7 linked regions of the Homo sapiens genome follow. The protein of the gene in region 1 purifies or fractionates together with the protein of each later gene. This does not show direct contact. Each region holds a gene or a part of one and is shown in the gene's direction. Other genes may lie near its edges. The genes, in order: PRDM5, ZBTB4, RBM28, RBM34, ZFP91, TNRC18 and KIF1C.

Region 1 (4,508 bases):
CTGTTTTGCTTTTCTTTATATTCAGCAGCCTCACTAGGAACCCTCCCAGAACAAATCCTTAACTATGTAAAAGAGAGCAATTCTGGGTGCTTTCTCCTGGGGACAGCCCGCTTTACAGCTTCAGTTCTGGCTTCCCTGGTGATTGGCCCAAGGCCCAGCATGGCTTTTGTATCAGTTGATTCCAAGTGTGAAGTTTCTCTGGGGTTTCCTTGGAAAGAAGGTTCTTTGTAGCATTCCTCTTCTGTGTCTGTTATTGGTCGAGGTTTCCTCTGCATTAGTTATCTATTATTTCGACTATGTCTGATTTCTGTTTTCCAGGACTTTCTAAAATATCTTGATATGTTGATGGTGGACCTTGTTTTTTTTTTTTTTCTTTTTCTCGTGTCTGTCATTTCTGTGGGATTTAGAGACCAAAGAGGTGAGGTACACATGATGGCTCCATCAACACCTTGAACTTCCCAGATGTCTAGTATTTTTTCTATTTCGGGACCAGGTTTCAGTAAATTCTTTCAGGGGACGAACTTATTTGCACTTCCTCTGGTTTGTGTTAGAACTTGAAAGGCTTTTTTTTTTTTTAAGTTTTGTGTTAGTGTTAATAATAACGAAATCATTGATATCTCATTGCTCTCTGTCTGCATGTGTGAATGACACTGTTGCATGACAACTACATTTATAGGCCACCACAAAGTGTTGCTTGCATAAGGCCAGTTAGTGATGCAAAATTCACTTTAAAAATTGAACATAATTTCATTTGACATGTGTAAATGTCACTTTTTGTCATATGTATTTGTATTTTATTTGCCAGGTAACTGAATATTGTCACCTGCCTTTTTCAGCACCCAGATCAACTAGAAATAAAAAAAAGTAATAACTTTTCATGCACACATAGTACTCCATTAATGTATCTTAAAATTATTTCTTAATTACTATCAGAAACAAATGAATGGTTCAGCATTTAAAAAAATTTGTTTCAGGAAGGAGAAAACATTTTCTATTTGGCAGTTGAAGATATAGAAACAGACACGGAGCTTCTGATTGGCTACCTGGATAGTGACATGGAGGCTGAGGAGGAAGAACAGCAAATTATGACAGTCATCAAAGAAGGGGAAGTTGAAAATTCTAGAAGACAATCAACAGCGGGCAGAAAAGGTATTGCATCTTTAATTGGTGATCTGGGAGAAGAAAAGTTGTAGAAAAAAGTGTAGTTTAAACTGTGGTTGAATTATAGTTGCCTTGTAATATGGCATTCTCAAATAAAGTTAGTTTTTGTCAAAATTATTCTCGAGGGTATCCTGTGGTGGACTCATCTTTGTTACAGCAGGAAAAGTATTTTGGGAGTGGGTGATGGATGTACCCTATAGGACTGCCTAGGCCGCAGGCAGGGCTGCATTGCTAGGGCAGCTCCCGGCTCTCACTGCTCTCACTGGCGCATTGGGGTAATGAGTAGTGAGGATTTTTATAGTCTTGCCATAGCTCTGCCACTAATCAGTCTTGTAACGTTGGGCAAGTTGCTGACTTTCTGAGACTTTACTTTCTCATCTGCATATAGGAAAAGGTGAGAGTGGAGGTGAGGTACACAAGAGAGCCTGCTGGATCCGAAGGGGATTGATTCCTCTTGTTTGGGATCTTTTGGGAACCTGCAGCTTCTTGGCATCTCTTTCTGTTCTGATCACAGAAGCCTGGAGGATTGCTAGGTTGCCCTAGTGTGGTTACCAAAAACTTTCAGTGACCGTAGGTCAGACCTTCCTCAGTCAATACTGCAGCCACTTGCTTGTTAACTGCCAGGGAATAATCAATTATTATTGGCCTTGTTTCTATTATGTTGTGTTTTACTCCTAAGGGAAATTTAAGGGATATATGAATGATGCTATAGGTATTCACATTTTGTAATAGGCCTCGTCTTTATCCTTTCAGGCTGTTATAACAAAATACTTTAGACTAGATACTTGGTAAGCAGCAGAAATTTATTGCTTACGTTTCTGGAGCCTAGGAAGTCTATCAAGGTGCCAGCAGATTTGGTGTCTGGTGAGGGCCCGTTTCTAATTAGATAGCACCTTCTAGCTGTGTCCTCATGTGACAGAAGGGACAAGCAAGCTCTCTTGGGCTTCTTTTACAAGGGCATTAAGCCCATACATGAGGACACAGTGCTCATAACCTAATCATCTCCTAAAGGGCCCACCTCTTAATACAATTCCATTGCGGTTTCAGTTTCAACGTATGAATTTTGGGGATTCACGAACATTCAGACCATAGCAGGCTGATACTTACTATACAGTACTTTTCCATTTTGTGTAGCAAAGCCACTTCAGAAGTGATACTGGTTTCATTAGTCAAAGTGGTAGTATGCTTTTCCTGTACTTTTTCTGTTCTAACTGCATGTTATTGGCTGAGAAAGTGTGAACATTCTGTCACCATTGCCAGCTTATGCTTCTGTTTCTTTATTTTAGTTGAATTATTTAAGGGGAAGATAAGGACAGGCTTATATGCATTATGCTATTTGGAATATCATATTTTGGGTGATGGGAATTATTTCTGTGTTATTCTGTGTTTTCTTTGTTTTTGTATTTTATTTTTTCCCTGTTGTCCCCAGGGCAAGTTATTTTATCCATTATTTTAATTTAAAAATAAGTAATCTACTTACCTATTACTGCCCTGATTTCTGCTTTAGTTATTAAAATACCAGTTTTCATTATCTTTGTAAAAAGAATCAACAGAAACTTAAACAGAATTTTTTAAACACATGAACCAAGCACTTGCATTGTGGCTATTTTGGTTTTTTTAAAATTTTATTTTATTATTATTATACTTTAAGTTTTAGGGTACATGTGCACAATGTGCAGGTTTGTTACATATGTATACATGTGCCATGTGCCATGTGCCATGGCTATTTTTATTTTAGAATTCTTAGTTTTATTTAGAAAAGCAAAGAAACAAAATAAAAACAAACAGCAAAAGAAACAAGCCACCCAAATGTCTAACAATGAAGAGTTTGGTTAAATAAATTGTGGTACTTTAAGTTTAAAAATATGCCAACATTTGACTTGAGAAGATGTTAAATGGGAAAACATATAAAATTGTATATAAAGTATGATCCCAAATTTACCTCTTCTTAGACTGCGCATAAAATATGTATGCACTAAAGGCAAGTCAGGCTTGCCAGTAATATTATGACAGTTGTCTCTTCCTGATGGGATTATTGGTGTTTTTTATTTTCTGCATTTTCTAAGTCTAATTTTATTTTATAATCAGAAACAAATGTGTAATTTAAATAGCACGCTGAGAAATTTGGTCAGACCTGCACCAGTCTATATGGGACCGTGTAGCATAATTCACTCTACTAGCTTAATCAGCACTGTTTTTATGACCTTGGTCTTTTTTCACATGTATGTGAGATTCTCCTTGGTAATTCAATATAGTTTGCATCAGTTGGATTTTTCTCCTTGTGAAGGTAAAAATGAGCTAAAAATGACCAATTTCAGGAATAGCTTTTGTTTTCTAATTTAACATTTTGATCTGAAAAGTTAACATTATAGGATGAATTAAATAAGGAATTTGACTTTGTATTAATTTGGTGAAATACAAGTGATTTTGAAAATAATGTATTTCTCTCTAGTAACACTTGCTATTATTTTTTTGTGGCCAAATACTATTAATATTTATAGTGATAATAAGAATTTATTCATATGGTATCATTAAGCACAATTAATTAATTAATTTAAAATGAGAGCAAAACTGAGCATTTCTTGGCTCTGAATTTTTGTCTCATGAATATGTTTCCTTGTGAATGTGCAGATCGCCTTGGCTGTAAAGAGGACTATGCTTGTCCTCAATGTGAATCGAGTTTTACCAGTGAGGATATTCTTGCTGAGCATCTCCAGACATTGCACCAGAAACCCACAGAGGAGAAAGAATTTAAGTGCAAGAACTGTGGGAAGAAATTCCCAGTTAAGCAGGCTTTGCAAAGACAGTGCGTATATTAAAGAAATATCTTTAAAATTATAAGCTAACACAGTTTATTCCATTCAGCTTAACTCATAGTTTTTAACCTGTGTGTGTGTGTGTGCACGCGCGCACGCGCATGTTTTGTGTGTGAATGAGAGATTAAGCATTTTACATTGGTATTGTCATTAACTCATCTTTTCTTAGTATAGTATGTTGATTATTAAAATATTCAAATTATGGATTTTAACACATAAACACTGTTTATGGTAATTAGTTTTTGTCCATTTATTAATTTGCCATTATGTATCAAGCTTACTGGTTTAATCTGAAATTCAGATATGCCTACTTTAGTTACTCCTTTGAGGTAACAGACTTTTAGTTGTCTACGTTTTATATTCCTTCTGGAATCTGTTTAAAAAAAAGTTTAAGAAATGGGGAGTTCAAAGTATAAAGAATTCCTGGACATTTTGGGAAGCACTGTTTATTTGAGAGCAACTTTGGAGGAATAATTTAAAGATGCATAGGTCCCAGTTATAACAATATGATTAATTAGATGATCCCACACA
Region 2 (4,508 bases), on another chromosome or scaffold:
ATTATCTGGGCATGGTGGCAGGTACCTGTAGTCCCAGCTACTCAGAAGGCTGACAGGTGAGAGGATCATTTGAGCCCAGGAGGTTAAGGCTGCAGTGAGCCTCAATCTCACCATTGTACTGCAGCCTGGGCAACAGAGCAAGATCCTGTCTCAAAAAAAGATAAATAATTGACCAGGCTCTGTAATCCCAGCACTTTGGGAGGCTGAGGCGGGCAGATCACCTGAGGTCAGGAGTTTAAGACCAGCCAGGCCGACATGGTGAAACCCCATCTCTACTAAAAATACAAAAATTATCCGGGCCTGGCCAGGCGCGGTGGCTCATGCCTGTAATCCCTGCACTTTGGGATGCCGAAGTGGGCAGATCACAAGGTCAGGAGATGGAGACCATCCTGGCTAACATGGTGAAACCCCGTCTCTACTAAAAATACAAAAAAAAATTAGCCGGGAGTGGTGGTGGGTGCCTGTAGTCCCAGCTACTCCGGAGGCTGAGGCAGGAGAATGGCGTGAACCCGGGAGGCGGAGCTTGCAGTGAGCCAAGATCGCACCACTGCACTCCAGCCTGGGCGACAGAGCGAGACTCAGTCTCAAAAAAAAAAAAAAAAAAAATGGTGGCGCGCGCCTATAGTCCCAGTGACTCGTGAGGTTGAGGCAGGAGAATCTCTTGAACCCGGGAGGCGGAGGTTGCAGTGAGCCAAGATTGTGCCACTGCACTCCAGCCTGGGCGACAGAGCTAGACTCTGTCCCCCGCCGCAAAAAAAAAAGAGAAGCAGTTGGGCCAGTTTCAGTGGCTCATGCATGTCATCCCAGCACTTTGGGAGGCCGAGGCAGAAGGATCACTTGAGCCCAGGAGTTCGAGACCAGCCTGGCCAACATAGAGAGATCCAATCTCTACTAAAAATAAAAAATAAATTAACTGGGCATTGTGGTGTGCACCTGTGGTGCCAGCTACTAGGGACGCTGAGGTGGGAGGTCATGAGAGCCTGGGAGGTTGAGGCTGCAATGAACCATGATTGTGCCACTGCACTCCAACCTGGGCAACGGAGTGAGACCTCATCTCAAAAAAAAAAAAAAAAAAAAAAAAAGAATGGCCAGGTGCAGTGGCTCACTCCTATAATCCTGGCACTTGGAGAGGCAGAGGCGGGCAGATCACTTAAGGTCAGGAGTTCAAAACCAGCCTTGCCAGCATGGTGAAACCCCACCTCTACTAAAAATACAAAAAAATTAGCCAGGCTGGGCGCGGTGGCTCATGCCTGTAATCCCAGCCCTTTGGGAGGCCAAGGCAGGTGGATCACGAGGTTGGGATTTCAAGAACAGCCTGGCCAAGATGGTGAAACCTCGTCTCTACTAAAAATACAAAAATTAGCCGGACGTGGTGGCAGGCGCCTGTAATCCCAGCTACTCGGGAGGCAGAGGCAGGAGAATCGCTTGAACCCAGGAGGCGGAGGTTGCAGTGAGCCCAGATCGCACCACTGCACTCCAGCCTGGGCGACAGAGCTGGACTGTGTCTCAAAAAAAAAAAAGAAAAAGTGTTACTAAGTGCCAAGGAGCAAAATAAAGTAGGGTCGGGAGATAGGAAGTTTTAGAAGGTGGGGAGTGGCCAGGGAAGGCCTCAGGGGAAGGTGGCTTCTAAGTCAAGGCTTAAAGGAAGTTGGGGTTCACTGCATGAGGCTATCTGGAGGAAAGAACATTCCAGCCAGAGGGAACCGCAAGATGTAGGGCGTCTCTGGTGTCCATGCTCAGATCCCCACCTCAGTGGCACATCTGAGGTCACACAGGCACTGAAGAGTAGAGAAATGGTAAGAACAAACAAATAAAAAACTCTAAAACCACAGAGCCACCAAACCTACCAGGAAGCCCAATTTGTGCCTTTTTTTCTTCACTACTTCTCCCCACCATTTTCCAGGACTGAGTTCTACAAACTAAATATTGCCAGTTGTTAGCTCATTTAATCTTTACAACAACCCCACAAGGTAGGAACTATTAATTGTCCCCACCGTATGGACAAAGAAACAGATACAGAGAGGTTAAGTAACCTGCCTGGGGTCACATAGCTAGTCTTTTCCACTTCCTATAAGGCCTTGCAGGGCAGTAGCCAGGATAGGGCAGTTTAACTCAAGCTGCGTCCAAACGCTGGGTTGGCTAGCAACAAAACCAGAGGCAAATAACCCCATCACTACCTACCTTCTACCTGAAAGGGAGGAGTTTAGAGTATTTGATTTCTCTAAGCCTGTTGTCTCACTGGCCATTTTGAGTGTTGAAATGAGATGATACAGATAAAATGCTTAGCATTATACTTTGCACATCATAAGTATTTCAAGCCTGGGCAACGTGGCAAGACCCCATCTCTACAAAAGTAAATAAATAAATTAGCCAGGCATTGTGACATAAGCCTATGGTCCCAGATACTCCGGAGGCTGAGGCAGGAGGATCATTTGATTCCAGGAGGTCCAGGCTGCAGTGAGCAATGTTCACACCACTGCACTCCAGCTTGGGCAACAGAATGAGACCCTGTCTCAAAAAAAAAAAATTTTTTTCATAAATGGCAGCTACAGAGACCATGATGACAATGATTGTGTGTGATCTTAAGGGCCAGTCCAGCATTGGGTGTCTCTAGTTCTAAGAAGCCCTGACAGGTCTCGTCCAAGTACTGTGGTAGTCAGCACACGGTCACACATGCATAGCCCACCACATATGGTTGTGCAGGTTGGCAGGCCCAGCCAGTGGGGTGAATGGGGACTGGAGGCAAAGCTTGACTTTGCCCACCTACACAGGGCTGCTACCTCCTGGAGGAAAGAACCTTGCTTCTAATTTTCAGAAAGGCACCCAGGTAGGATATTTGTGCCCTAGTGGGTGCCATAAACACGTCCTTCGTTAATATATGGTGAAGTCATCAGGAACACAGGCTTTGGAGCCAAACTTCCTGGGATCAGATCCCAGCCCTGCTACTAGCTGGTCATACGTCCTTGGGCCAGCTACCTAGCATTGATAAGCCATAATCTGACATTTTATTTATTTATTTTGAGACGAAGTTTCATTCTTGTTGCCCAAGCTGGAGTGCAATGGTGCAATCTCGGCTCACTGCAACCTTTGCCTCCTGGGTTCAAGTGATTCTCCTGCCTCAGCCTCCTGAGTAGCTGGGATTATAGGTGCCCACCTCCATGCCCTGCTAATTTTTTATATTTTAAGTAGAGACGGTGTTTCACCATGTTGGCCAGGCTGGTCTCGAGCTCCTGAACTTCAGGTGATCCATCCACCTCGGCCTCCCAAAGTGCTGGGATTACAGGCATGAGCCACCATGCCCAGCCTATTTTATTTTTTTGAGGCAGGGTCTTGTTCTGTCACTCAGGCTGGAGTACAGTGGCATAATCATAACTCACTGCAGCCTTGAACTCCTGGGCTTAAGGGATGCTCCCACCTCAGCCTCCTGAGTAGCTGGAACTATAGGTGCACACCACCACACCTGGCTAATTTTTGTATTTTTTGTAGAGACCAGGTTTCTCCATCTTGCCCAGGCTGGTCTCGAACTCCTGAGCTCAAGGGATCCACCTGCCTCAGCCTTCCAAAGTGCTGGGATTACAAGTGTGAGCCACTGCACCCAGCCCATGGTCTGTCATTTTATTTATTTATTTATTTTTTGAGACAGAGTCTCGTTCTGTCACCAGGCTGGAGTGCAGTGACGCAATCTCGGCTCACTGCAACCTCCGCCTCCCGGATTCAAGTGATTCTCCTGCCCCAGCCTACCGAGTAGCTGGGACTACAGGTGCCTGCCACCACGTCCGGCTAATTTTTGTATTTTCAGTAGAGAGAGGGTTTCACCATGTTTTTCAGGATGGTCTCAATCTCTTGACCTCGCGATCCACCCGCCTCTGCCTCCCAAACTGCTAGGATTACAGGTGTGAGCCACCGTGCCCGGCCTATTTTTTATTTATTTTTATTTTTATTTTTTGAGACAGAGTCTCACTCTGTCACCCAGCCTGGATTGATCTCCATCCAGCGCGATCTCGGCTCACTGCAGCCTCTACTTCCTGGGTTCCAGCAATTCTCCTACCTCAGCCTCCCAAGTATCTGGGATTACAGACACCCACCACCATGCCTGGCTAATTTTTTTTTTATTATTATTTTTAGTAGAGATCGCCACATTGGCCAGGCTGGTCTAGAACTCCTGACCTCAGATGATCCGCCCGCCTTGGCCTCCCAAAGTGCTGGGATTACGGGCATGAGCCACCGTGCCCGGCCTTAAAGAGGGAAAGTGGCCAGGCATGGAGGCTCACGCCCATAATCCCAGCACTTTGGGAGGCCTAGGTAGGCAGGTCACAAGGTCAGGAGATCAAGATTACCCTGGCTAACACGGTGAAACCCTGTCTCTACTAAAAATACAAAAAATTAGCCAGGCATGGCGGCGGACGCCTGTAATCCCAGCTACTCAAGAAGCTGAGGCTGGAGAATCGCTTGAACCTAGGAGGCGGGGGTTGCAGTGAGCTGAGATTGCACCACTGCATTCCAGTCTG
Region 3 (4,508 bases), on another chromosome or scaffold:
GGACCAGCCTGGGCAACATAGTAAAACTGCCCAAAATTTGAAAATTAGCCTTGTGTGGTGGTGTGCACTGTAGTCCCAGCTGCTCGGGAGGCTGGGGCAGGAGGATTGCTTGAGCCCAGGAGTTTGAGGCTGCAGTGAGCTATGGTTGTACCACTGTACTCCAACCTGGGCAACAGCGTGATACCCTGTCTAAAAAAATAATAAAAATAAAAAAGGATTAAACCCTTTACTTGACCAGCTTCTTTTCCTGCTACCCCTGGACTAACTAATCATTACATATTTTTGTAGTTGTTTTTTCTTTCTTTCTCTCTCCTGATCTACCACAAGCCAAATGTACTCATATACATACTAATAGGTGAAAAAAGAGAGTCTGAGGAGTGAATACATTTATTTTGTGATTTCCTAGGCAGTAGCTAGGACTCCCTTAGAGGTTGCTAATAGGGAAAGGGTGCGCTGGCTCTACTCAGTTTTATAACTGCTTTTCCCCGAATTCTGCAGACATCTTCATTCCCCTGGAGGTCAGATAATGGCTATTTATTTTCCATAGCCATGAAAATCTCTGGGGAGAGCTGTGGCAATTTGACGAGAGCTATTAAAGGGACATTAGGATTGAAGTAGCTGCTCAGGCAGTCACATACCCTCGATCCTCATCTGCAGGGACAGCTGCCAGAACGAATGAGCCCAGCTCTCCTGCCCGCAGCCAGCCGCGTGTGGGTGCAACTGGCGACCAGCCACTGGAGTGAGTCCCAGGGAAGGGGACAGGTTCTTAGAATCACCATTTGTCTCTGCTCTCTCCCTCTCTGCAATAGGACGGGCACTCTAAACTCACATAATGGTTAATAACAACAGCTAACAATTACTGAGCACCTACTATGTGTCAGGCATGTGCTGAGGATGATCGCATCAAGTAAAATGCCTGTCTCTGGCCCAGAGGCCCAGAAGAAGAGAAAGAAGGGAAATCTGTAGGAGGCAAACAGTCCCTTACCCCTCTGCTTGCAGACCTTCAGTGACAGGACACTCCCTGTTTGCTCCAAGCACCTCTTGCATTTTCAGAGCTTGGGACACAGATTCAGGGACTTGCACTTCGATAGAGTGCCTCAGGACCCCTCGTCGGAGCCATGGAAAGTCAGTTTCTGGGCCCATCCTTCCTGTGGGGGTGTCTTTCCTTCTCTTGGCCACCCCCTAGGAATCCCTAGTAGAGAGCAGGCACTTAATAGCCAGTGCAGTGAGAGTGGTCTGTGATGTCTGGGCCAGGGCAAGGCCCGCCAAGTGGGCTCCCAGGTGCCTGCCACAGAGCCTCTGGGGTTTGAGGCCCTCAGTGACCCTTAGGCAATAGCTGGGTCTTAATGAGGGATCATGTCCTTTCCTGGGTAGTCGTGGGTAGAGGGGTGTGAACTGATCTGAGCTACTCTAGGAAGGCTAGAGACAAAAGCAGGAACCAAGAGAAGGGCTGAGGCTCCTTCCAAGAGACTCCAAGTCCTGAGGGCAAGAAGCGGAGAGCCTTGTGCCAGGCCAGGTGTTGCCCCTGTCAGTGCTGACGGACAGGCAAGAGAGGCTGCTGATGCTGCAGCCCTGTGAAGCTGAGACTCACCCTTTGCCCACTTTCACAGCCATCTCCCCAGGAGGCTGTGGTGACACAGGTAAAAGCCAAAGGACAGAGGATGACCCTGGACAAATCACTCAGACCCTCCAGTCCTCTTTGCTCATTTATAAAATACAGGCAAAAAGCCCCCTAGTACTAAATGAAATAGCCACTGTAAAAGAGCACGGGAGATAGGGTCTGTGATGTCTTTTGTCCCCAGTGTCCTGAGTGAATTCACAGGAAAGGGGAGAAAGACTGGTTGCCCACTTCCAGGGTGATTGGCTAATTTCCACTTCTTTCCTGCTAGGGATGGGAACACACGCCAGAATCCTGGGAAGGCTACATGTCCTCAGGTGGTGCTGGCCCCACCTCCAGCCTCTGCAGGGATACCAGGATATGAGCCAGGCTCTGCTCCCGGGGTGACCCATCCTCCTCAGTGCCCCTTCTTTCCTCACAACTGCAGGCAGAAGGAGAGTGTGTCCTGTCTCTCTGAGGAGCTGGCTGTGCCATTTAAGCAGGCCCTAGGGGTGGAGCGCTGTGAAGAGATGGCACCCAGGTCCCTGTTCCTCCTTTTCCAGAGCAAACACTGCTAAGGGATCATGACAGTCCCTGCATCTGGCCCAGACTGGGCCTTGGGAGGCTTTTGACATCAATCCATGCAACCGCACCCAACAATTGGAGTCAGCATGGGAGGTGAGACCCACTTGCCAATTTTGCTCTCAGGGAACAGCCCTCTTTACTAAAACATAGCACAGTATTGATAACAGTTGTTTCCAGGCATCGTAGAAAGCGTTTAGTGGGCATTAACGTCTTTGATCCTCACCACAAGGTCAGGGGTTGGATGATGTTAGCATGCTCATTGAAGGATCAGAAAAGTCAGGCTCAAGATAGCTCGCCCTTCATTCAGCCAGCCGGTGTTAACTGAATATTAACTGTGCACCCGTCTGTGCCAGTGTTCCCCCAGGAGCTGCAGAGGGTCCTGAGCAGAGTGAGCTCAAGCCACTTGGGAGCTCACATTCCAGCTATCAGTGCTGATTCATCTCAAATGTTTGATCCACGCTGGGTTCTAACCCTTCCCTGCTCAGAGCCCTCAGAGTCCAGGTCAGGTAGAACCCAGAACAGAGCCTCTGGCAGGAAGGAGCTTGCATGGTCCTCAGGCTTCATGTCCAGAGATCATTCCTCCACTTTGAGCTTCTTTGTGAAAACCAATCACAAAGAGAGGAGGGGTGAAATGTGCCAAAGCCTCTGCCAGGGTTGTAGCAAGGAAACCTGGGCTTCTAGGGAAAGTTGAGAAAGGGCCTATATTAGTCAGGAGGGCTACTGTAAGAGAGTACCACAGGCTGGGTGGCTTAAACAACAGAAATTTATCACCTTACGGTTCTGGAGGCTAGAAGTCTAAAATCAAAGTGTTGGCAAGGTTGGTTCCTTCATGAGGAATTTCTTGGCGTTGCCTGGCATATAGATGCATCACTGCAGTCTCTGCCTCGTTGTCACATGGCCATCTTCTCCCTGTGTCTATAGGTCTATGTCCAAATTTCCCTCTTCTTATAAAGACACCAGTCATATTGGCTTAGGCCCAGCCCAATGATTTCATCTTAATTTGATTACATCTCTGCTATGGTTTGAATGTGTCCCTTCCAAAATTCAGGTTATTGCCAATGTGATAGTATTGAGATGGGGTCCTTAAAGAAGTAATTAGGCCATGAGGGTGCCTCTCTCTGAAGGGAGGCTCATTGGATTGTATCAGTGTAACATAATTTACATAACCAGTTCTTTATGTGATGGAAATCCCATTCAACGGTTTCCAACCTTTGCTATTACAAACTGCTGTGAAGAGAAACATATGTCATTATACTAATCAGGTGCTGTTGTTGTTTTTATAATGCATTATCCTGGAGAGACTGCCCCTCCCAGGGCTAGCTACTTTGGGGAGAGAGTAAACAACTTGGTCGAGCGTGCCTTTCGTATGCAAACCAGTCAATCCAGAGCCCACACCCCCAGTCACCTCCTTTATCAAACTCTGACACAGCAAGCCAATATTCCCCCTGCCCTAAATCACTCCAGGGCCAGGCATGGGACAACTAGGGACAATCCCTATAGCCAGGGCCTGCCAAAGTTATACAGATTAGCCAATCCTAAGCCTGCTTCCCTGCCTTGCCTTGCCTTTCTGCTGGAAACTACATTAAAGGCGCTGGATCGTGCTTTTCCCTCACCCCCTCTGCTTCTTGGCTGACCCAAGTTCTTCCTGTGTGGCCCTGCAAGGCGTGACACACCTCTCCTCCTGGGAACTGCATAACAAACTCTTCTTGCAGAGATAGTTTTCTCTGTGTCTGTCATCTTACCATACCTGATGAAAACAAATATGGGTACATTTTTTTTTTTTTTTGAGAGAGAGGGTCTCACTCTGTCTCCCAGGCTGGAGTGCAGTGGTGTAATCACAGGTCACTGCAGCCTCGACCTCCTGGGCTCTAGTGATCCTCCCACGTCAGCCTTGCAAATAGCTGAGACTACAGGCACACACCACCATGCCTAGCTAATTTTTGGTGTATTTGTTATAGAGACAGAGTTTCGCTATGTTGCCCAGGCTGGTCTCAAACTCCTGAGCTCAAGTGATCCACCCACCTTAGCCTCTCAAAGTGCTGGGATTATAAGTGTGAGCCACAGCATCCAGCCATGGGTACATTTTAAAGCAGGCGTTTTGTTCATGTGCAGCCCTTGTTCTCAGTTAAGGGGAAAATGAGTGATCCTTTGCTTGGCTCTGAAGGAGCAGTGTTTTATATGTAAAGAATATATTCTGTATATTTAAAGAAGAGCAATGGGGGGCATTTGAAAATAAATCCGTTCATTTTTTTCTGATTGTAAAAATAATATATGCTCAGTAAAGAGAATCTGAAAAATACAGAAGTATTGGGGGAACCCACCCCCA
Region 4 (4,292 bases), on another chromosome or scaffold:
CCTTCCAGGCTTTTCCTGGAAGGGGACTGGAATCAGCAATGTGAGGGAAGCGCAGAAGGAAACAGCCTATGTCCTCTGTGGTTACAGAGTTGATGGCAAGAGAGGCACAAGGACCGAGGTCAACATTCCCTTCAAAAACGTAGTCCTGGCTGGGCACAATGGCTCATGCCTGTAATCCTAACATTTTGGGAGGCCAAGGCGGGAGGATCACTTGAGCCCAGGAGTTAAGAGCAGCCTGAGCAATGTAGCAAGACCCTGCCTTTACAAAAAAAAAAAAAAAAATTAGTCAAGTGTGTGATGCATGCCGACAGTCCCAGCTACTCAGAAGGCTGAGGTGGGAGCACCACCTGAGCCCAGGAGTTTGAGGCTGCAGTGAGCTGTAGTCGTGCCACTGCATTCTAGCCTGGGCAACAGAGGGCGACCCTGTTTCTTAAAAAGAAACAAAAACATAGTCCTCTTCAAATAAGCATAATTAGGTCAGAAGGTACATTAGACATCATCTGGTCTAACACATTATAGACCGAGGTCTAGAAAGTTCAATTATTCATTAGACAGTTTTTAGTACACACTCTGTCAGAGATGCAGTTCTAAGACATAGTCTCAACTTCCTAGGAGCTGACAGTATATGTTAGGGTTGGAGTGACAGGTCATGTCACTGTTGTATAAGTACTATCATCAATGCACAGGATGATTTGTCAGCTCAGCATTGGGACACTTGACTTGGGGATATGCCAGGAAGAAGGGACAAGGCAAGTTTCCAGGGGAATAAATTTCATAATAGTCTTGAAAGATGAGGAGATAGACCTTACCCTGTGGAGAAGCGGGGGGAAAAAAGAAAGAAGAGAAGGCTTATGTAGACCAAAAGTGTTGTAAAGGCTGAGGGCCATGTCTGGGAGGAAAAACAGTATAAATGGTGAGGACAGAAACTAATTCACTCAGGAGATGGCAAGAGCTTGGTACAATTATTAGGTGGGTGAGGTATGTAAGAGTTGCTGTTGGACAAATAGGCAGAGGCCAAATCATGAAGACCTTGTCTACCGTGCTTCACACAGAGGAGTCTGGATTTTGTTCAGGAGCTATTCTAAAAATTTAAACTAAGAGTGACATGACCAGATTTGGACTTGACAAAGGTGCCTAGAAATGAATGAAGGACAGTTATAACAGTTCACCCACAGAAACATAGAGTGCATTTCTGTCGATATCAAAGGAACTTAGTGGAGAAATGACAACGACCTGGATGAAAGCCCTGGCTTGACTTGGGGACCCAGTACAGGGTCAACAAACTATGGCAGAGAGCCAAATCTACGTGCTGCTTTTTTTTTGTTAATGAAGTTTTCTTTTGACACACAGCGACATCCATTCATTTGTGTATTATCCAAGGGCTGTTCTCAAGGTATAATGGCAGAGTTGAGTAGTTGCAGCAGATTCCACATGGCCTGCCAAGCCTATAATATTTGCTATCTGGCCCTTTACAGAAAAAGTTGGCATGCTCCCAATATAGCAGTCCGTTCCTGATCCCTACCGTGTGTCAGTGCCAGCTGTGAACAAAAGGTCACTCCCCTCCTCTGGTACCCACACACAGTCCAGCAGGGAAGACAGAAGAAACAGAATCAAAGAACATGATGTGTGGTTAAATTAGAAGATGGGTGACCTGTCAGATATGGGGGGAAGGAGGGATAGGGAGGATTTTCGATGACTTCCATTTTCTGGTCTAGTGAGTGATTTTTATTAACTGTCTTTTTGTTTCAGAGAGACAAGAGATCGGTTTTTGTGGGGAATCTCCCTTATAGTAAGTTTGTTTAAACAAAGTACAGTTAATATTACTAAATAAATAACAAGGAAATAAGAACTGAGTAGTAACTTAATGTTTTGATTTAAGACTAATTTTAAAGCATGCAATGTGTTTGCCGTGGCAGCACATGTACTAAAAAGTGTGCAATATAATGGCTTATTTTCATGGGACCATGCTTAACTAGCTGTATTATTAAACAACTCCATGTTTCTGAGGGGCTCCCAACTCTTTACTTCCATTTTGATTGAATTTGTTTTCAGAAGTTGAAGAATCTGCCATTGAGAAGCACTTTCTGGACTGTGGAAGTATCATGGCCGTGAGGATTGTGAGAGACAAAATGACAGGCATCGGCAAAGGGTTTGGCTATGTGCTCTTTGAGGTATGGGAGACTAATGCATTGTCACTGTCCTTCGAAGTGCCCTGGGAGGCATTGACACTGTTGCATGTCATCATTGAGACATAACTTTCACTTCCATTCTCAAATTCCATCTTAAGAAAACTGGGCTAGGTGCAGTGACTCATGCCTGTAATCCCAGCACTTTGGGAGGCCGAGACGGGTGAATCTCTTGAGCTCAGGAGTTTGAGACCAGCCTGGCCCACATGGTAAAACCTCGTCTCTACTAAAAGTCCAAAAATTATCCAGGTGTGGTGGCAGGTGCCTATAATCCCAGCTACTCAGGAGGCTGAGGCAGGAGAATCGCTTGAACCCGGGAGGTGGAGGTTGCAGTGAGCCGAGATCGTGCCACTGCACTCCAGCCTGGGCCACAGAGCAAGACTCCATCTCAAGGGGGAAAAAAAAAAATACAAAAAATTTAAAAATTAGCCAGATGTGGTGGCTCATACCTGTAATCCCAGCTACTTGGGAGGCCGAGGAAGGAGAATCACTTGAACCTGGGAGGCAGAGGTTTCATTGAGCCGAGATCACACCACTGCACTCCAGCCTGGGTGACAGAGCAAGACTCCGTTTCAAAAAAAAAAAAACAAACCGGCCAGATGTGGTGGCTTATGCCTGTAATCCCAGCACTTTGGGAGGCCGAGGCGGGTGGATCACCTGAAGTCGGGAATTCGAGACCAGCCTGACCAACATGGAGAAACCCCATCTCTACTAAAAATACAAAATTAGCTGGGCATGGTGGCACATGCCTGTAATCCCAGCTACTTGGGAGGCTGAGGCAGGACAATCGCTTGAACCCGGGAGGCAGAGGTTGCGGTGAGCCGAGATTGCTCCATTGCACTCCAGCCTGGGCAACAAGAGCAAAACTCTGTCTCAAAAAAAAAAAAAAAACCCGAAAACGAGAACTGAATTTATAACCTGCCATAATATATTGCTACAACTGCACCTATCCAAAAGATGTCCCAGTTCTTTCTTCATACTAATTAAATGTTTTTGATCCTGGATATTAGAAGTACTAAATCACTGAATCTTCTCTACCTTCTGTATGATAGAGTAAATAATTGACATTAAGGTATAAGAAAGTTTTATTCTTTGTACAAAATTAGTTATATTTAGTTCGCTAATTTTTAACCAGTGTTTCATGCCTGACAATATTAAGGAGTAAAAGAATATACAGGCCGGGCATGTTGACGCGTGACTGTAATCCCAGCACTTTGGAGGGCTGAGGCGAGAGGATTGATTAACGTGAGGACTTCAAGTCCAGCTTGGGCAACATAGGTAGACACCGACTCTACAAAAAAATATACAAGTAAGGCTGGGTGCGGTGGCTCACGCCTGTAATCCCACCACTTTAGGAGGCCAAGGCAGGTGGATCACTTGAGCCCAGGAGTTCAAGACTAGCCTGGGCAACATGGCGAAATCCCGCCTCTACAAAAAAATACAAAAATCAGCTGGGCGTGGTGGTGCATGCCTGTAGTACCATTTACTTGAGGAGCTGAGGTAGGAGGATCACCTGAACCTTGGGAGGTCGAGGCTGCAGTGAGCCACCCAACCTGGATGGCAGAGTGAGACCCTGTTTTAAAATAAGAAAGAAAAATTAAAAAATAAAAATCTAGCTGGTCATGGTGGCCAGCGCCTGTGGTCCTATCAGGAGGCTGAGGCTGGAGGATTGCTTAAGTACGGGAGGTCAAGGCTGTAGTGAGCCATGATTGCACCACTGCACTCCAGCCGAACTGACAGAGTGAGACCCTATCTCAAAACAAAAAAATAATCTATTGTCATCCCTTGATATCCACGGTGTATTGGTTCCAGGATCCCTCTCACATAGCAAACAGTATATATATATCTGCAGATGCTGAAGTCCCTTATATAAAATGGCACATTTGCATGAATGTATATTGTTATATATAATAAATTTTTTTATTGTCATATTATTTGTTGTTTTCAAGTATTTTCTATCTGCAGTTGATTGAATCCTCTGATACTGAACTCACGGATTTGGGGAGCTGACTGTACATACTATGTGATGTCATAAATTTTTCTTCTCTCAGTAACAACCCATTACTACATTTCCTTTCAGTTTTTCCTTGTGCTGCCATTTTTATA
Region 5 (3,059 bases), on another chromosome or scaffold:
TTCACAAACATGGCTTATCAATTTTTTCAAAGAATTCTTTTTTCCCAAAAAGAGGAGTAACAAAATGTCATTTCTGAAAGAGGCTTACTTTATACCAACTAGTGTCAGCATTTGGGATGCCAGGGAACAGAGAGTGAGACACCTACAATCACCAGTCTCAAATGCGCTATTGTTTCTTTTCAGAGTGTTGCAGATTTGCCATTTCTCCATAATATGGGGATAGAAAATGGAATAAAGATAGAAGGGATGTAGAATATGCTTTCCTGCCAACATGGTTTGGAGTCGACTTTGGTATATTGACTAGATTTGAAAATACAAGATTGATTAGATGAATCTACAAAAAAGTTGTCCTCCTCTCAGGTCCCTTTTACACTTTTTGACTAACTAGCATCTATATTCCACACTTAGCTTTTTTGTCACACTTATCCTTTGTCTCCGTAAATTTCATTTGCAGTGGTTAGTCATCAGATATTTTAGCCACCTACACAAAAGCAAACTGCATTTTTAAAAATCTTTCTGAGATGGGAGAAAATGTATTCTCCTTTCCTATACCGCTCTCCCAACAAAAAAACAACTAGTTAGTTCTACTAATTAGAAACTTGCTGTACTTTTTCTTTTCTTTTAGGGGTCAAGGACCCTCTTTATAGCTACCATTTGCCTACAATAAATTATTGCAGCAGTTTGCAATACTAAAATATTTTTTATAGACTTTATATTTTTCCTTTTGATAAAGGGATGCTGCATAGTAGAGTTGGTGTAATTAAACTATCTCAGCCGTTTCCCTGCTTTCCCTTCTGCTCCATATGCCTCATTGTCCTTCCAGGGAGCTCTTTTAATCTTAAAGTTCTACATTTCATGCTCTTAGTCAAATTCTGTTACCTTTTTAATAACTCTTCCCACTGCATATTTCCATCTTGAATTGGTGGTTCTAAATTCTGAAACTGTAGTTGAGATACAGCTATTTAATATTTCTGGGAGATGTGCATCCCTCTTCTTTGTGGTTGCCCAAGGTTGTTTTGCGTAACTGAGACTCCTTGATATGCTTCAGAGAATTTAGGCAAACACTGGCCATGGCCGTGGGAGTACTGGGAGTAAAATAAAAATATCGAGGTATAGACTAGCATCCACATAGAGCACTTGAACCTCCTTTGTACCTGTTTGGGGAAAAAGTATAATGAGTGTACTACCAATCTAACTAAGATTATTATAGTCTGGTTGTTTGAAATACCATTTTTTTCTCCTTTTGTGTTTTTCCCACTTTCCAATGTACTCAAGAAAATTGAACAAATGTAATGGATCAATTTAAAATATTTTATTTCTTAAAAGCCTTTTTTGCCTGTTGTAATGTGCAGGACCCTTCTCCTTTCATGGGAGAGACAGGTAGTTACCTGAATATAGGTTGAAAAGGTTATGTAAAAAGAAATTATAATAAAAGGGATACTTTGCTTTTCAAATCTTTGTTTTCTCTTATTCTAGGTAAGGCATATTAAAAATAAATATGTAAAGAAGAAAAATAAAAGTTGTCTTCATGGAAGCAACTTGTCTTCCTTGGTTGTACTGAGTTACAGTTATCCTAGGGGTGAAACATGTGATGCTGCTAAGCAAACCAAATGCCCTCAGAACAGGTGTTATGTGGGGCATACTATTGTTTGCTTTTGTTGAGAATCAGGTGGTTAATTTTTGACTGTTCTTGATTTCTAATGCTGAAATGACATGATTCTGTTATTCAGCAAACTTGGAAATCTTGATGTTTTGACAACTGCCTCCTAGGAAAACTGGCCATATGTTAATTAACCTAGTAGATGGAAAATTAAGGATTATGTGAGGTTAATTTTACCCTGATAATGACAAAACCTTGATAGCATTTAATATTAATACTTCTTCTCAAAATTGAATGTTTATATCAAGTACTGATTTTTATTTTAAAAAAGAAAAAACTATAATCCTTCTGCCTTCCAAAAGCCATGCTGTGATAGCTGCCCAGGCTGCTCTGTTACATCTCCCATTTATTGTTTACTTTTATAAATTTGCTTCTAAGATGGTATGTGTTTCAGCTTATTGGCAATATCTATGATATAAATAATGAAAGCTAATTATTTCATTTAGCCCTTACCCAATAAGCATCATTTTCTAAGTTAAATGCAATAGAATGACAACCCTCCAAGTACCTTTTAACTTTTATACTGTCATTTCAAAGCCCAGCTCATTCTCTTATTTTAAGAAGCATGTGGTATGACTGGGTAGGGGAGAAAAAAGGAAAGCATGTTGTCACTTGAGTGAGACTGCTTTAGAAATGTTACCAAGTTAGCGTTGGGTGTTTCCTGTTCTTTGGAAGAGAACAGGCCTAAACAGTACCTTCCTCCTCCTATGTAGCTACCAGGAAGGCACCGTGATTGAAATTAGAGATGCTTCCTTGCTTGATTTTTAAGTATAAATTAAATTACCTTTAAAAAGTACGTAAGGTTAGGAGTGAAAAAAATCCTGTTTTTAAAGGACTTCACACACCCTTTGTTTCTTGAACAAGATGTGAACTACCTAAACAGAAAATGAAATTGGAAAGTCAGTGGGAGAGACAACTATAGAATCAGACTTCTATTTAAATTCAAGCCTCGTTACTTGATTTTGTGCATGTTATTTCTTGAAGTTTCAGTTTCTTATATGGAGAAATAACATTTACCTCAGAAATATTCTGAAGATCAAATGGAATTGCTTTAAAGTATTTAGCTTACTGACTGACCCATGGTAGATACTTAATAAATGGCAGCTGTGTCAATAACAATTTTATTGAATGAACATTTCGCCAGCCTATGAGAAAAAAGACATGGGAAGCATAAGGGAGAATGATAATAAAATGAACTAATTCTAAGTGTGTGAGATAGATTACATTAGGCAGGGGTGCCATGAGGATTGGTATGATAGTGACCTTGTTGCTAAGTGCAAAAGCAAAACAATGACATAGAAACAAGTGTGCTAAGTACTGAGTGGAGGAGAGAGATGGAGGCAGACGCTGCAGGGGAAAAAAAATCTGATTAAAAAGGGCCCTTTGATTCCACAGGCAC
Region 6 (4,508 bases), on another chromosome or scaffold:
CTCCTCTTCCTCTTCGTCTTCCTCCTCTTCCTCCTCCTCCTCTTCCTCGTCCTCATCCTCCTCCTCCTCCTCCTCTTCCTCCTCTTCTTCCTCCACCACAGACGAGGACTCTTCCTGCAGCTCGGACGATGAGGCAGCCCCCGCCCCCACGGCTGGCCCTTCCGCGCAGGCGGCGCTCCCCACCAAGGCCACCAAGCAGGCCGGCAAGGCGCGGCCCTCGGCCCACTCCCCAGGCAAGAAGACGCCCGCGCCCCAGCCCCAGGCGCCTCCTCCGCAGCCCACACAGCCTCTGCAGCCCAAGGCTCAGGCCGGGGCCAAGAGCCGACCCAAGAAGAGAGAGGGCGTCCACCTCCCCACCACCAAGGAGCTGGCCAAGCGGCAGCGCCTGCCGTCCGTGGAGAACCGGCCCAAGATCGCCGCCTTCCTGCCAGCCCGGCAGCTCTGGAAGTGGTTCGGCAAGCCCACCCAGGTGAGCAAGCTCGCGCCCGGGCACGGCCGAGGGGCCGGGGGCCTTGTGTCTCTCTGCTGGGCCCACGGCTTCATGCTGTGTCTCCGTGTGTGGTAACCTCCCAGAACCCCAGGGTGGAGGGCTGGCGTCCCACTTTATGGATGGGTACACTGAGTCTCAGAGTGTCCTCAGGCACCTGGGTCTGTCGGACTCCGATGCCCGAGTCCTTCAGAGCAGAGTGGTCCTGCCCTCTGGTCCCGGGACGCAGAGCCACCCTCGTGGAGCCCAGATGAAGGAAACGTGCAAAGATCAGCACAGACCCACAGGCGTCGGCGCCACGTGGAAGGGGCTTTCCAGGCCTCTGGGATTTTTTCCTTTTTCTTTTTTTGAGACTGAGTCTCTCTCTGTTGCCCAGGCTGGAGTGTGGTGGTGTGATCTTGGCTTACTGCACCCTCTGCCTCCCGGGTTCAAGCAATTCTCCTGCGTCAGCCTCCCAAGTAGCTGGGATTACAGGCGCACGCCACCACGCCTGGCTAATTTTTGTATTTTCAGTAGAGATGGGGGTTTCCCCATGTGGGTCAGGATGATCTCAAACTCTCCTGGCCTCAAGTGATCTGCCTGCCTCGGACTCCCAAAGTGCTGGGATTACAGGTGTGAGCCACCACGCCTGGCTTTTTCTTTTCTTTCTTTCTTTTTTTTTTTTTAAGAGACAGGATCTTGCTCCGTCACCCAGGCTGGAGTGCAGCGGTGCCATCGTGGCTCACTGCAGCTTTGAACTTCTGGGCCCAAGCAGTTTTCCCGCCTCAGCCTCCTGAGTAGCTGGGATTACAGACATGTGCCACCATGCTACCCAGCTGATTTTTAAATATTTTTGTAGAGACAGTGTCTCACTGTGTTGCTTGGGCTGGTCTTGAACCCCTGGGCTCAAGTGATCCTCCCGCCTCAGCCTCCCAGAGTGCTGGAATTCCAGGTGCGGGGCCTGACAGCCTGTTGTGTGTGGCATTTGAGTGTTCCCAGCCACGCCCCGGGCTCCTGGCCACTAGTGTGGCAGTCCCAGCAGAAGGTACCTCCTTCCCAGGTTTGCTAGCAAAAGTCCAGATTGAAGCTCCTTGGCCTGGCCAGGATCATGTGCCCACCCCTGAGTGAATCAATATGGCCTGGAAGACAAAGTCCTGGCTGGCCAGGTCGGGGTCCCGTGTGCCCTGCCTGCAGCAGTGGGTTAGCTGTTCAGAAGGAGCCCTTCCAGCCTGCCTGTGGCTGTCTACACACACGCACACACACTTGCACACAGTGCACTCAAAAGCATGGGCACATGCACACACACACGCACATATGTGTGCACATGTACACATGAATGCACATACAGCCACACACAAAAGCAAGTATACACACATGCAGATGTACATGTGAATGCAGGCACGTACATGAACCATGTAAACATGAACATGCACACATATGCAAATACACTACACCCACACAAATGCACACTTGCACACGTACACAAACGTAGGCACATACATGCGTGCACGTGCATCCATGCACGTGCATGCACACGAGTACACGTGCACACACACAAACACGTGCACACACGAACACGTGCACACACATGAACACGTGCACAAATGCACAGATGAACATGTGCACACACAGGCACATATACATGGCAGGACCCAGTGTGAGAAGTGGTGGTTCAGACAGGCTGGCAGGGAGCCCCCAACGTGCTGTAGGTGTGGGGCAGGAGCACCTGCATGTTCCAGAAGGGGTCAGTGGTGTCTCAGGCAGCATTTCCAAAGCTGCTCTAGAATGGAGTTTCAAGTCTCTCTTGCCCAGGTGCAGTGGCTTAAGTCTGTAATCCCAGCACTTTGGGAGGCCCAGGCGGGAGGATCACTTAAGCTTGGGAGGTCAAGGCTGCAGTGAGCTGTGATTGTGCCACTACACTCCAACCTGGGCAATAGTGTGAGACCTTGTCTTGAAAAAAATAATAGTTTTAGCCGGGCGCAGTGGCTCACACCTGTAATCCCAGCACTCTGGGAGGCCCAGGCAGGAGGATCACTTGAGGTCAGGAGTTCGAGACCACCCTGCCAACATGGTGAAACCCCGTCTCTACTAAAAATACACACACAAAAATTAGCCAGGCGTGGTGGTGCACGCCTGTAATCCCATCTACTTGGGAGGCTGAGGCAGGAGAACTGCTTGAACCTGGGAGGCAGAGGCTACAGTGAGCCAAGATCGTGCCACTGCACTCCAGCCTGGGCGATAGAGTGAGACTTCATCTCAAAAAGAATAATAATAATAATAACTATTTTTTAAAAGATAAAAAAGGCCAGGTGTGGTAGCTCACGCCTGTAATCCCAGCTCTTTGGGTGGCTTATGTGGGAGGATCACTTGAGGCCAAAAGTTCAAGACCATCTTGGGCAACATAGTGAGACCCCCATCTCTACAAAAATAAAAATATTAGCCGTGGATTCCTGTAATCCCATCAACTCAGGCGGCCGAGGGAGGAGGATGGCTTGAGCCCAGGAGATCGAGGCTGCAGTGAGCTATGATATTACCACTGCAGTCCTGCCTGGGTGACAGAGCAAGACCCTTTCTCTGAAAAAAGTAATTTTCAAAAGAAAAATAAGGCCAGGTGCAGTGGCTGACACTGCGATCCTAGTGCTTTGGGAGGCAAAGGTGGGAGGGTGGTTTGAGGCCAAAAGTCTGAGACCATCCTGGGCAACATAGTGAGACCTTGTTCTCTACAAAAATAATCAAAATTAGCCGGGCGTGGTGTGCGCCTGTATTCTCAGCTCCTCAGAGGCTGAGGTGGGAGAGGATTTCTTGAGTCTAGGAGTTCGTGGCTGCAGTGAGTCATGATGGCGCCACTGCGCTCCAGCCTGGGCAACAGAGGGAGACCCTGTCTCAAAAATAAGAAGTCTTGTAGCGGCAGAATGCTTAGATCAAGGGAAGCGCCTCTTGGAGACCCAGCATGTCAAAGAGATGGAAGAGGGGCTTCCCCACTTGAAGCGAGACAAGGAGCTTCCTCATCTCCCCACAGTTGGATAGGGGTTGATTTAGAGGCCGAGGGCCCAGAGTCCCAAGCGGCAGAGCCTGCCAGGCGGCGGGCTCCTTGGGGCTGGGCCAGGGCCTGTGCCGTGACACACGTGTCCTTGCAGCGGCGTGGCATGAAGGGCAAGGCCCGCAAGCTCTTCTACAAGGCCATCGTGCGCGGCAAGGAGATGATCCGTATCGGGGACTGTGCCGTGTTCCTCTCTGCCGGCCGCCCCAACCTGCCCTACATCGGCCGCATCCAGAGCATGTGGGAGTCGTGGGGCAACAACATGGTGGTCCGCGTCAAGTGGTTCTACCACCCCGAGGAGACCAGCCCGGGCAAGCAGTTCCACCAGGGCCAGGTGAGCCTGCGGCCCGGCTGCGGCCCCCAGTCCTAGGCGGTGTAGGGCAGACCTGAGGGCGAGGCGTTCTGGGTGCTGGAGCATCAGCAGCCCTGCCCAGTGGGTCAGCCCTGTCCTGGGGCCTGGGGTCGGGTGCAGCAGCCCCCGGGCTCACCCAAGCCCCTCCTCTCTCCCCCACACAGCACTGGGACCAGAAGTCCAGCCGCAGCCTCCCGGCGGCCCTGCGGGTCTCCAGCCAGAGGAAGGACTTCATGGAGGTAGGTGGTGGTGGTGGTGGTGGTGGGCGGGTTGGGGATGGCTGCTTCCTTCCGGGCAGCTCAGACAGGGCCCGGCTCAGCATCTGCTGCTCTGTCCCCCATGGTCTCCCTCAGCCTCTGACCTCCTGTCCCTGCCACTCTCAGTGCCTGGCTCCTGTTCTCTGTCTCTCTGGTCTGTGCGTCTGTCTCTGGGTCTTCTCTGCTCTCCCAGTGTCTGTCTCTGAGTCTCTGGCCATTCTTGCCCTCTGACTCTCTCTGGGTCTCTCCCAACCTCTATCTTTCAGTCTCTGTGTCTCTCTGGGTCTCTCTCGATCTCGGTCTCTGTCTCTCTGCGTCTTTGGATCTCTTGGTCTGTCTATCCTTGTCTCTCATTTGCTCTCCATCTCTCGGTCTCTGTCTCTCTTTTGTTGG
Region 7 (4,209 bases), on another chromosome or scaffold:
GTGTGGTGGCAGGCATCTGTAATCCCAGCTATTCGGGAGGCTGAGGCAGGAGAATCGCTTGAACCCAGGAGGCGGAGGTTGCCGTGAGCCGAGGTCAGCCTGGGCAACAGAGCAAGACTCCGTCTCAAAAAAAAAAAAAAAAAAAAAAAAAGAATACTAGATAAGTTAGGAGAGAGTGCACATAGGCTCCCGAAGGACAGAAGCAGCCAGCTGGAACTGTAGAGGTGAACTAGTATTTATCCAAGGGAACTAGGGATGGGCTGGGAAAGCAGGTGAGGTCAAAAGCGGAGAGAAGTATACCGTGCGGAAGCGGCAGATGGGGCTAGTTGGAGTTGGGCTGAAAGGGCCTAAAGTGGGGTCTAAAGGGGATGTCCTGACTCGGAGGGGGGTCAGCAGAACGCGAGGGAGCAGCGGGAGCTGCGGGGCATTCGGGCCTCAGATAGTTGGGTCCAAGCGGGTGACCTAGATCCAAGGGCAGGATGGAGCTGAAGGAAGCCAGGAAGGATCCTCCACAGTTGACTTCGGGGTAGCCACGGCCTGCGCCTGCGAGGGTGGATGAGGACCCGAGGGTCCGGCTGGGGCTGAGGGGCTGCCTGGAGCCCCGCTGGAGGGAAGCGCCGGGCCGGAGGGCGCGGCCTGCGCCTGAAAGGGCGACGGGGACCCTCGACAGGTGGACCGGGCGTGGCCGGACCTTCCGGGCAGCCCCGCCCGAGGGCACGACTGGGGGCTGCTTCCCTCGAGAGGGGCCCTGAGGTGGTGGGCCCAGGCTGAAGGGCAGGCTGGGGCCTGAGGGACGCCCCGGGTCTGAGAGGGCAGCTCCGGCCTTAGGCGGCACCCGGGCCTGAAGGGGTTGTTTGGGCCTCAGGCGGCGTCCAGGGCGGCCGAACTTGAGGGCCAGGCGGGGACAGAGCGCCCGAGTAGCCGCGCCACGGCCGGCCGCATTTGGCCCCAGCACCTGAAGCAGCTGCGCGGCGAATTCTAGAACTCGGCGGGGCGGGGAGGAGAGAGACGGCGATTCGAGCCGCGGGAGGAGCCGGCGGGCGGTGCTCGTCTGAGGGCGGGGCCTGAGCGGAGCCACCTTCTGGGCGGGCCTCGGCAGGAGGCTCCGCCCCCTGGACGCGCCTCCAACGGCGGCGACGGGAACTGGGCCGGGGCCTGGGTGCCCCCGCGGGTCAGCCCCCGACGTTTCCCTGTTCTTCAGGCGTCTGCAACCCTCCTGGGTTGCGGCGTCTGCTCGCCCTTCTGCGTCCGCAGCTCGGTCCCCACGTTCCCGCTCGCTGGGCCCCACAGGCCAGGAGCGTTGCCCCTTTAACAAGAGTAGCCCGGGTCGCTCCCGGCTCCTTCCCGGGACCGCGCGTACCCGCCCCTCCGCGCGCGCTCGCGCGTCCCCCGCCCCTCGCTCCCGCCCCAGCTCGCGCTGCCCGGGCGGGCGCCGGCCGCTGGCGCCGCTACTGCTGCCGCCCCCGGGGCGCGAGTCCGCCGCCCGCCGCCCGGGCACCCGGCGAGGGGCGGGGGCAGCTCCGAACCGGCCCCAGATCCTTCCCGCTTCCGCCTCACGCTTCCCGGAAAGCTTGTCCCTCTCCGCCGAGCTGCTCCGGGAGCCCCGCCGCGCCGAGGTGAGGGCTGGGGAAGGGGGAGGGAAGGGACGCCCGCGGAGGAATGTGCCGGGTTGGGGGGCGGGGAGCCGGGGTCCGGCGGCGCGATCTAGGCTCAAGAGTCGGGATCATGTGCTGTTTGTTCCGCGGAGGCGCAGAGAGGTGCCAGGCCCGGGCGGCCGCCGGCTGGCTGGACAGGAGGACGGGTCCGCATGGCCGCCCTGAGAGGCCGGGCGGGGACCTGTGTGAGAACCGCCGGGTGGGCAAGGTGCAGGTGGCCCAAGACCCCCTTTCGGGCCGGTCGGCCCCACCCCAGCCGCCCAGTATCCTCCTTGTACCCCACGGCTCCTTCACAGCTGCACCGGCCGACCCCTGTCCCTACCTCTATTCCCTTACCCCGCTGGCCCCCAGCCGTGCCACCCCATCCCTGTCCCATTAGCTGCAGCAACGGCGTCACCATCGCTTGTCCCCACCAGTGTCCTTCCCTCCCCTGGTCAGGGTCTAGGGGGTCAGGGCTGTTCTTCCTGAGCCAGCTTCTGTGATTCCAGCTACTCCCTTCCTGTCCTGGGACAGACCAGCCCCTCACCCTCCCATGCTCTGCCCAGGAAGACTGGTGAGGGGAGGCCCAGCGTGACAGGAGTTTGGGGTCCACTGGGGCCACAGGAGGGGGCTCCGCATCCCTTATCCTTCGTGGTCCTCCTCCCTGTTGTCCGTGGGCGTGGGCTGCTCAGCCTCTCCTCCCAGGGTGTGGGCACCCGATCACCCACATTCCTGGGCTCCAGCCTGGCACCTTCCCCAGGGCAGTGGACGCCATAGCACTAGCCCCAGGTTGGGGCTGGCACCAGCCAGCCGGCTTCCTTTTCTTTCTCCCTTTTAGGGAGGCCCCAGGGACCCTCTACCCTCAAACACAGGTATTTCTGGGCGCCCCAAGGGTGGAGCCCTGAGGGTTGGTCTGATGGCTACAGGATGACCCCACCCTCCCCTGCTCATTGTCCCGGATCCTGAGGAGGAAGTGCTGGGGGCTGGGCAAGGGGCTTAGAGCCCACACAGCTGGCCCTGTGGATCCCAGTCCTGGGCCCTACCTACAGTCCTTGGACTTTGCCCATCTGCACTACTGGCCTGGTGCATGGAGGTTGTGGGCCTCAGGTGGAAACTAGATTCTCCCTTGCCGACACTGTGGGGGAATTTGAGGACAGGTTTTGCATTTGCAGTTTCCTCTCTGGTCTCTCTTCTGGGCTCCCAGTTTGTGCTTTGGCGCCGGAGTTCCCCACCCTGTCTCTTTAACACCGTGTGTTTGCTGTGCTGTGTCTCTTCCTCCTTTCCTCTCCCATTCTTTCCTTCATAGCATGACCTCAGGCTTGCCTTTTGTCTTATTTCTCTAATTTTCTTGGTGTCTGTGACTCTCTGCCCCTCCTCTCTCTCTTCCCACCCCCCTCACGTCTCTGCCCATGTGCCCCTCTCTCTGAATTGCCCTCTGTCCAGCCTCTTTCTCTCTCTGTCCTCTATCTGAACGTTCAGTACATTTGCGAGTGACAAGGAATAAAAATATCACCGTCCCTGCCCTTGGATTCACATTGCATTCAGCCACTCTAGAGGGGCAGCTGTCCGTACTTTTCCTGCTATTCCCCCCGTAACCTTGGCCCTCCAACCTGGGAACCCCAGACGGGTCTCTGGAACCACAGGTGCCTTCTAACAACTCTTCCCCCGCAATCAGGGTATCTCCCAGAGCCCCAGCTGGTGTGGCCAGGCCCCAGGAGTAGGATGGGGCTCCCCCTACGAGGGCCGGTGGCAGCCAGAACTGATACAGCCCCCCTGGTCTGGGGCCAGGACGCCAGGTAACTGGGGGAGACCGCCCAGGTTCCTGCAAGCTGGAATATGGCTGGGGAGAGAGGCAGAAATACCTTTGGGAGTCTCTCAAGACAGTGACATTTGGGAGGAAAGCCAAGGGAATAAGAGCTGGGTCCTTGAGAGGCTGGGTGGCTCTGGGGGAGATGTGAAGAGACTGGTTCCGGGAAGAAGCTGGGAGGCAATGTCTGGGTCCCTGCAGTGGTTCTGACCCCACCACTCCTTTCTCTGTCCTCCAGCTGAGGAGGGCAGGAGTGTCTGGAGCTATGGCTGGTGCCTCGGTGAAAGTGGCAGTGAGGGTTCGGCCCTTTAACGCCCGTGAGACCAGCCAGGATGCCAAGTGTGTGGTCAGCATGCAGGGCAACACCACCTGTGAGTGAGTCCCCGGGGCCTGGCTGGGCACAGGCAGGGAAGGCCGGGCCCACCACACAGGCCAGTCCCGCTGGGCCAAACTAAGAGGAGGGTAATGCTGGGCACAGAGCAGGTGCTAGTCGTAAGGGCGGGGGCTGGGGCAGGCTGGCCTTTCCCGTGTTCCCAGTCCCTGGGAGGGGGAATGTTGGCCTGGAGCCCTCCATTGCCCAATCCAGGGAGGCAGCTCAGTGGGGGCGGGTCCTAGGAAGCCAAAATTAGCTTTGGTGGCTGGAGGGGGTGGGGAATGTTAAAGGGGAGAGAAGAGTCAGGACAGTGGTGAGGAGTGGGATGCTTGGATTCCAGGGGCTGGTTGGGGTATGGGCAGGGACTGGGAATACCTGACCTTGACTTTCCTTCC

The links.
Region 2: the proteins of PRDM5 (region 1) and ZBTB4 purify together in Homo sapiens (affinity purification with mass spectrometry; 2 studies listed by BioGRID and IntAct, with this or other methods). This does not show direct contact.
Region 3: the proteins of PRDM5 (region 1) and RBM28 purify together in Homo sapiens (affinity purification with mass spectrometry; 2 studies listed by BioGRID and IntAct, with this or other methods). This does not show direct contact.
Region 4: the proteins of PRDM5 (region 1) and RBM34 purify together in Homo sapiens (affinity purification with mass spectrometry; 2 studies listed by BioGRID and IntAct, with this or other methods). This does not show direct contact.
Region 5: the proteins of PRDM5 (region 1) and ZFP91 purify together in Homo sapiens (affinity purification with mass spectrometry; 2 studies listed by BioGRID and IntAct, with this or other methods). This does not show direct contact.
Region 6: the proteins of PRDM5 (region 1) and TNRC18 purify together in Homo sapiens (affinity purification with mass spectrometry; 2 studies listed by BioGRID and IntAct, with this or other methods). This does not show direct contact.
Region 7: the proteins of PRDM5 (region 1) and KIF1C purify together in Homo sapiens (affinity purification with mass spectrometry; one large-scale study listed by BioGRID and IntAct). This does not show direct contact.

The regions. Positions count from the first base shown.
Region 1 is NC_000004.12:120,817,812-120,822,319, reverse strand, and holds part of PRDM5 (PR domain zinc finger protein 5), read left to right. Parts: intron 1-974; coding exon 975-1,149; intron 1,150-3,792; coding exon 3,793-3,967; intron 3,968-4,508. UniProt on the Homo sapiens protein: Sequence-specific DNA-binding transcription factor. Represses transcription at least in part by recruitment of the histone methyltransferase EHMT2/G9A and histone deacetylases such as HDAC1.
Region 2 is NC_000017.11:7,469,209-7,473,716, reverse strand, and holds part of ZBTB4 (zinc finger and BTB domain-containing protein 4), read left to right. Parts: intron 1-4,508. UniProt on the Homo sapiens protein: Transcriptional repressor with bimodal DNA-binding specificity. Represses transcription in a methyl-CpG-dependent manner.
Region 3 is NC_000007.14:128,298,475-128,302,982, reverse strand, and holds part of RBM28 (RNA-binding protein 28), read left to right. Parts: 3' UTR 1-4,508. UniProt on the Homo sapiens protein: Nucleolar component of the spliceosomal ribonucleoprotein complexes.
Region 4 is NC_000001.11:235,133,531-235,137,822, reverse strand, and holds part of RBM34 (RNA-binding protein 34), read left to right. Parts: intron 1-1,749; coding exon 1,750-1,789; intron 1,790-2,052; coding exon 2,053-2,171; intron 2,172-4,292.
Region 5 is NC_000011.10:58,619,509-58,622,567, forward strand, and holds the end of ZFP91 (E3 ubiquitin-protein ligase ZFP91), read left to right. Parts: 3' UTR 1-2,042; downstream 2,043-3,059. UniProt on the Homo sapiens protein: Atypical E3 ubiquitin-protein ligase that mediates 'Lys-63'-linked ubiquitination of MAP3K14/NIK, leading to stabilize and activate MAP3K14/NIK. It thereby acts as an activator of the non-canonical NF-kappa-B2/NFKB2 pathway.
Region 6 is NC_000007.14:5,308,464-5,312,971, reverse strand, and holds part of TNRC18 (trinucleotide repeat-containing gene 18 protein), read left to right. Parts: coding exon 1-469; intron 470-3,603; coding exon 3,604-3,840; intron 3,841-4,022; coding exon 4,023-4,097; intron 4,098-4,508.
Region 7 is NC_000017.11:4,996,541-5,000,749, forward strand, and holds the start of KIF1C (kinesin-like protein KIF1C), read left to right. Parts: upstream 1-1,409; 5' UTR 1,410-1,616; intron 1,617-2,472; exon of another isoform or gene 2,473-2,506; intron 2,507-3,309; 5' UTR 3,310-3,430; intron 3,431-3,679; 5' UTR 3,680-3,706; coding exon 3,707-3,812; intron 3,813-4,209. UniProt on the Homo sapiens protein: Motor required for the retrograde transport of Golgi vesicles to the endoplasmic reticulum. Has a microtubule plus end-directed motility.